Linked DNA regions of Homo sapiens. The protein of the gene in region 1 interacts with the protein of each later gene in a biochemical or structural test. Each region holds a gene or a part of one and is shown in the gene's direction. Other genes may lie near its edges. The genes, in order: KIF20A and RAB6A.

Evidence for each region.
Region 2: the proteins of KIF20A (region 1) and RAB6A form a complex in vitro, tested with the Homo sapiens proteins (2 studies listed by BioGRID).

What each region holds. Positions count from the first base shown.
Region 1 is NC_000005.10:138,181,917-138,185,290, forward strand, and holds part of KIF20A (kinesin-like protein KIF20A), read left to right. Parts: intron 1-406; coding exon 407-545; intron 546-669; coding exon 670-857; intron 858-944; coding exon 945-1,074; intron 1,075-1,252; coding exon 1,253-1,447; intron 1,448-1,553; coding exon 1,554-1,665; intron 1,666-1,771; coding exon 1,772-1,840; intron 1,841-2,045; coding exon 2,046-2,189; intron 2,190-2,322; coding exon 2,323-2,488; intron 2,489-2,595; coding exon 2,596-2,760; intron 2,761-2,890; coding exon 2,891-3,030; intron 3,031-3,178; coding exon 3,179-3,281; intron 3,282-3,374. UniProt on the Homo sapiens protein: Mitotic kinesin required for chromosome passenger complex (CPC)-mediated cytokinesis. Following phosphorylation by PLK1, involved in recruitment of PLK1 to the central spindle. Interacts with guanosine triphosphate (GTP)-bound forms of RAB6A and RAB6B.
Region 2 is NC_000011.10:73,754,468-73,758,285, reverse strand, and holds part of RAB6A (ras-related protein Rab-6A), read left to right. Parts: intron 1-3,818. UniProt on the Homo sapiens protein: The small GTPases Rab are key regulators of intracellular membrane trafficking, from the formation of transport vesicles to their fusion with membranes.

The sequences.
Region 1 (3,374 bases):
TTGTTATTATCATTATTTCCTTATTTTCCTCACAAGGATAGTGTGGCTCAATGAATGTAATATTGCTGAAGCCATGTAGCTAGTCACTAGTAGAGTTAGGACCTGAGTCTAGATCCATGTATCTCCAAAGCCCATACTTGTGGGCCATTATATTGCCCCATTGTGTGTGCAGCATCAGGCCTAGGGCATAGCATTCCTTAAGTGTTTGTTGATTTGGTGGAAAGATGGACTAGCAGAGAGTGCTTGAGTCCTCAGTGTTTAGGGAACAGCCAGCAGCATTGCAGGAAGAAGCTGCTTGAGTGGTCTCCAGAGCCAACCACTCAGGAAGGAATATATCTGCTGGCTCTGCACAGGAGGCAAGTGGGAGATGAAGGAGAGGCCTCTAAAAAACTGGGTCTCTCTCTAGATCTTTGGGCCAGAAGTGGGACAGGCATCCTTCTTCAACCTAACTGTGAAGGAGATGGTAAAGGATGTACTCAAAGGGCAGAACTGGCTCATCTATACATATGGAGTCACTAACTCAGGGAAAACCCACACGATTCAAGGTGAGTAGTAAGCCTTCACGGGATTCCTGATTGGCTGGTAATGGTGTTGTTTTTACCTTTTGAGACTCTGAGTTAGGGGGAGAAGGGCACTTGCCTCAGCTGTCCATCTTTCATATGCCTCCAGGTACCATCAAGGATGGAGGGATTCTCCCCCGGTCCCTGGCGCTGATCTTCAATAGCCTCCAAGGCCAACTTCATCCAACACCTGATCTGAAGCCCTTGCTCTCCAATGAGGTAATCTGGCTAGACAGCAAGCAGATCCGACAGGAGGAAATGAAGAAGCTGTCCCTGCTAAATGGAGGCCTCCAAGAGGTAAAGCATTGGTATCCATGGCAGTGGGGGTAGGGGGTACAAATCTCGGGGAAGTTTTGTGCTTACCTTCTCCCTGTGCCCCTCCAGGAGGAGCTGTCCACTTCCTTGAAGAGGAGTGTCTACATCGAAAGTCGGATAGGTACCAGCACCAGCTTCGACAGTGGCATTGCTGGGCTCTCTTCTATCAGTCAGTGTACCAGCAGTAGCCAGCTGGATGGTATGTACCGTGACTGGGCTCTGCCAAAAAATAGTAGGAACTCACTCCCTGTTCCTAATAGCTGCCAGGAGTACAGACCAGAGGTTGCAATCTAAGGTCTGCCTTCCAAGGCCCCTGCAGGCCAAAAGAGAGGTGAACTGCTCTAGGTTGATGCCCTATACATTGGCTTCTTCTCCAGAAACAAGTCATCGATGGGCACAGCCAGACACTGCCCCACTACCTGTCCCGGCAAACATTCGCTTCTCCATCTGGATCTCATTCTTTGAGATCTACAACGAACTGCTTTATGACCTATTAGAACCGCCTAGCCAACAGCGCAAGAGGCAGACTTTGCGGCTATGCGAGGATCAAAATGGCAATCCCTATGTGAAAGGTAAAGGAACATGGGGAAAGCTGGCATGAACCCTGGAGGGCAACTGGGGAGAGACTGGCAAAAGAGTTGGATGTTCCCATCTTACACCCCTCTCCTTTGGCCCCAGATCTCAACTGGATTCATGTGCAAGATGCTGAGGAGGCCTGGAAGCTCCTAAAAGTGGGTCGTAAGAACCAGAGCTTTGCCAGCACCCACCTCAACCAGAACTCCAGCCGCAGGTGAGTAGATTGTAAGAATAAACTCTTCACTGTGTTCCAGGAAACATTAGTCCTCTGCCTGGTCATGGAAAATGTGCAATGACTTTTTGTTTTTCTTAACTTCCAGTCACAGCATCTTCTCAATCAGGATCCTACACCTTCAGGGGGAAGGAGATATAGTCCCCAAGATCAGCGAGTAAGTTTATCCATTTAGAAATTTGGGCTTCTTGGCCATAAATGATAGTTGGGAAAGCATGGAGGAGGTCCTCAGGGGAACTATGTGTTCTCCTTCTTTGGGTACAGAGATTCTTAGTGGGCCGTCCCCTCTCCAGAATTATACAAAGGGCCAGAAGGCTCATAACATGTGAGGCCCTTATGTCAGATCCTGTGCATCATTCTAGGCTGTCACTCTGTGATCTGGCTGGCTCAGAGCGCTGCAAAGATCAGAAGAGTGGTGAACGGTTGAAGGAAGCAGGAAACATTAACACCTCTCTACACACCCTGGGCCGCTGTATTGCTGCCCTTCGTCAAAACCAGCAGAACCGGTGAGCTTTTGACTATAATTCCTGGGCTCTGCAATTTGCTAAGAGACTTCCTGGACACCACTGGGGATGGTGCTAGGATACCCAAAGGGCTGGTGTTCTGCTCACAGCTCTATTATCTCTGATTCTCTGCCAGGTCAAAGCAGAACCTGGTTCCCTTCCGTGACAGCAAGTTGACTCGAGTGTTCCAAGGTTTCTTCACAGGCCGAGGCCGTTCCTGCATGATTGTCAATGTGAATCCCTGTGCATCTACCTATGATGAAACTCTTCATGTGGCCAAGTTCTCAGCCATTGCTAGCCAGGTGAGAAGCTAGAGGTGTGATGGGTGTGCGCACTTGGAACTGGTAACTCTAAGAAAGCTCCTAGGGACTACTTATGGAGTCAAGTAAGATATTTTTTTTCCCTCTAGCTTGTGCATGCCCCACCTATGCAACTGGGATTCCCATCCCTGCACTCGTTCATCAAGGAACATAGTCTTCAGGTATCCCCCAGCTTAGAGAAAGGGGCTAAGGCAGACACAGGCCTTGATGATGATATTGAAAATGAAGCTGACATCTCCATGTATGGCAAAGAGGTGAGAATACAAGAAAGCTTTAGTGTAGCAGCTTAGTAGCTACACATTTTTCCATGGTGCCTTCCAGGTGGGCTTGTGCCTTCTGAGGGCATGAGCATCTGATGACCTCTGACATGTGTGTCTCTCCTAGGAGCTCCTACAAGTTGTGGAAGCCATGAAGACACTGCTTTTGAAGGAACGACAGGAAAAGCTACAGCTGGAGATGCATCTCCGAGATGAAATTTGCAATGAGATGGTAGAACAGATGCAACAGCGGGAACAGTGGTGCAGGTACTAGCTGAGTGACCCCTCTTGCTCTGTCACCTGAGACAGAGGGTGGGAAGTAAGGAGTTAGGTGGAGTTGTGCCTCAAGATCTGTTCCCCAAGTTCACTCCTCAGAACCTTCACTTACCTCTCTTTTCTCCTCTGTTTCTGACAGTGAACATTTGGACACCCAAAAGGAACTATTGGAGGAAATGTATGAAGAAAAACTAAATATCCTCAAGGAGTCACTGACAAGTTTTTACCAAGAAGAGATTCAGGTGAGTTGCCCTGAGCCAGCTCCAATTAGCTGCTCAGATTTCCATCACTAGCTTGCCTGAAGTAAAGAGATTTTATAAACTACTCCAGTAAGG
Region 2 (3,818 bases), on another chromosome or scaffold:
TTTCTGTTTCAGCATTCAATTCAGGATGTGAAGTTAATTATCTTTTGAGGTTACTATATTGTCAAGTAATGCCATTCATTAGCTTTGACAATGAAAGATTGATCTCTGTTTTCATGGTCAGTGTCTATAGTTTTCTTATGCGTTAGAAGTCTGTAGACTCCATGTCCTTTTGATGTAACTCTTCATGAATTATTTATTTTTAGGTCTGTTAGAATTCCACAATTCAGCTTTCAAAGACTGTAATCTATGGCAAAGCCTTGTTTCTTCTTAATAGCATTTACCACATTTACAATTATCTTATTTTTTATGTGTTTGTTTTTATTTCCCACAGAAGAATGCAACTCCCATGAAGATAAAAACTATTCTTTTTTGTTCAGTGTGTCCCCATTGCCTAGCGTAGAGCCAGGCTCATAGTAGCTGTTCAGACATGTTGGGTAAATGAATGATGGCTGAATCTAGTAGTAACGAAAGCTAGTAGCCTATGTTACACTCTTTGACATGGTTACGCAATTGATAGTTTAACAATAACACTTAAAACTTACATCATTTGATTGTATACAGGAATATATCAGATACTTAAGGGGGTAGAGAAACCAATCGTTTAGAGGCCCAACCATTTCATTCAAAAAATAGGACTGACCTGAATTTTGTACTTTTTTTTGAGTTGAGCAAAATTCGTCTTCCTTTATTAAAGTTGTTAAATTATTTGCTATTAATGTAACGCATGAAAAGTATTCAAATTATACCAATGATGTGCTCATGGAACTGATTTGAAATTAGGTTTTATTTGGCTTATCAAAAATTTAAGATACTAGGCTGGGTGCGGTGGTTCATGCCTGTAATCCCAGCACTTTGGGAGGCTGAGATAGGTGAATCATCTGAGGTCAGCAGTTCAAGACCAGCCTGGCTAACATGGTGGAGTCCCCGGCTCCCCCCCACCCCATGGCCCGGTCTCTACAAAAATACAAAAATTATCCAGGTATGATGGCGGGTGGGAGCCTGTAATCCCAGCTACTCAGGAGGCTGAGGCAGGAGAATCGCTTGAACCTGAGAGGCGGAGGGTGCAGTGAGCTGAGATCATGCCATTGCACTGCAGCCTGGGTGACAGAGTGAGACTCTGTCTCAAGAAAAAAAAAAAAAAAAAAAAAAAAAAAAATATATATATATATATATATATATATATATATGTATGTATATTTAAGATACTACGCTCTATAGTGAAAATGAATTGTGTCAGTACATGAAGCAGATTGAGTTAATGACATCAATCTTAACCTTAGATAAATTCTTACGGTTTAATAAAGGAATGTTTGGCTGGGCGTGGTGGCTCACGCCTGTAATCCCAGCACTTTAGGAGTCCGAGGCAGGCAAATCACCTGAGGTCAGGAGTTCAAGACCAGCCTGGCCAACATGGCAAAATCCCATCTCTACTAAAAATCCAAAAACTAGCTGGGCGTGGTGGCGTGTGCCTGTAATCCCAGCTACTCAGGAGGCTGAGGCAGGAAAACTGCAACCCAGGAGGTGGAGGTTGCAGTGAACTGAGATTGCCCCACTGCACTCCAGCCTGGGCCTCAGAGCGAGACTTTGTCTCTAAATAAATAAATAAAGGAATGTTGAAATACACAATTGGAAGTTTCCTTGAGGAGTCTGTTTTGTTACTACCTCTGGCTATTGTCTTGAGATGCAGAGGCAGTTTTAGTAATGTCACTCAGTGGTTTACAGTAGAAGATTTCACTATATATACATGTTACCAATTATAAATTAGGAGATGTAATGGCAGAGAGAAGCGCATACTCAGCCTACTACTGTTTTTTTCACTTTATATTGCCTTTTCTTTTTTTCCATCAATGCTGATCAAATTGCAATATGTTAGATAAGGAAAAAATGTCTTATTGTCAGAGACTAGCAGTACTGACCAGTTGTTTTTCTTTTGAGACGGGGTCTACCTCTGTCACTCAGGCTGGAGTGCAGTGGTGTGATCTCAGCTCACTGCACCCTCCACCTCCCAGGCTCAAGTGATCCTCCCACCTCAGCCTCCCAAGTAGCTGGGACAACAGGCACGCACCACCACGCCTGGCTAATTTTTGTATTTTTTTGTAGAGATGGGATTTTACCATGTTGCCCAGGCTGGTCTCAAAGTTTTGAGCTGGCGAGATCCTCCGGCCTCAGCCTCCCAAAGTGCTGGGATTACAGGTGTGAGCCACCACGCCTGGCCAGTACTGAACATTTTATATTGGCTAGATCAGTGGTTTTTAAACTTTTTTTCCCCAAGACCCCTTTCTGCTCTTACAAATTTTTGAGGATCCTGAAGAGCTCTGTTAATGTAGTTGTTATTGTTGTTCTTCTTCCTCCTCCTCCTCTTCTTTCTCCTCCTCCTCTTCTTCCTCCTCCTCTTCCTTCTCCTCCTCCTCTTGTTCTTCTTCCTCCTCCTCCTCTTCTTTCTCTTCCTTCCCCCTTCTCCCTTCCTTCCCCCTTTCCACCTCCCCCTTCCTTTCCTTTTCTCCCTTCCTTCCTCCTTTCCTCTTCCCATTTCCTTCCCCCTTCTTGGATGCAGTGACTGTTCACAGGGGCTATCATGGCCAACTGCAGCCTTGTCTCAAGCTCTCCTCCTGCCTCAGCCTCCCTAGTAGCTGGGACTATAGGCACATGCCACTGTGCCTGACTTTTGTTTATGTAGTTTATGTCAACATTTAGGCCGGGTGCGGTGGCTCACGCCTATAATCCCAGCACTTTGGGAGGCCGAAGTGGGTGGATCACCTGAGGTCAGGGGTTCGAGACCAGCCTGGGCAACATGGCGAAACCCCGTTTCTACTAAAAATACAAAATTAGCCGGGCATGGTGGTGCGTGCCTGTAGTCCCAGCTCTTCGGGAGGCTGAGGCAGGAGCATTGCTTGAACTCGGGAGGTGGAGGTTGCAGTGAGCCAAGATCGTGCCACTGCGCTCCAGCCTGGGCAACAGAGTGAGGCTCCATCTCAAAATAAATGAATAAATATATCAACATTTACTGTATTGAAAAAGAAAATTTCAAAATATTTAATATGTTAAAAAATAATAGGGCCGAGCGTGGTGGCTCATGCTTGTAATCCCAGCATTTTGAGAGGCCGAGGTGGGCGGATCACTTGAGGCCAGAAGTTTGAGACCAACCTGGCCAATATGGTGAAACCCCGTCTCTACTAAAAATACAAAGAAATTAGCCTGGCATGGTGGTGGACGGTCCCAGTGGTAGTGCCAGCTACTCAGGAGGCTGAGGCAGGAGAGTCCCTTGAACCCGGGAGGTGGAGGTTGCAGTGAGCCAAGATCACGCCATTGCACTCCAGCCTGGGCAACGAGCAAAACTCCATCTCAAAAAAATAATAATAATAATAATAAACCCATTGCATGTTAATACCCTTTTTTTTTTTGACTGCATCCCTCTGTTGCCCAGGATGGAGTGAGTGCCTCCCGGGTTCGCGATTCTCATGCCTCAGCCTCCTGAATAGCTGGGACCACAGGTACATGCCGCCATGCCTGGCTAATTTTTTGACTTTTTAGTAGAGACAGGGTTTTGCTATATTGGCCAGGCTGGTCTCAAACTCCTGGCCTCAAGTGACCTGCTTGCCTTGGTCTCCCAAAGTGCTGGGATTACAGGCATGAGCCACTGTGCCCAGCCTTCATGTTAACATCATTTCTGAAATGAAAAAGAACTATTTTCCAAACAGATATTTAGTGAGAGTGACATTGTTTTACATATTTGCAAATCTCTTTAATGTCTGACTTAATAGAGGACAATTGGATTTGCATAGCTGCTTATGCATTCAATCCTGTAATATTACACATCA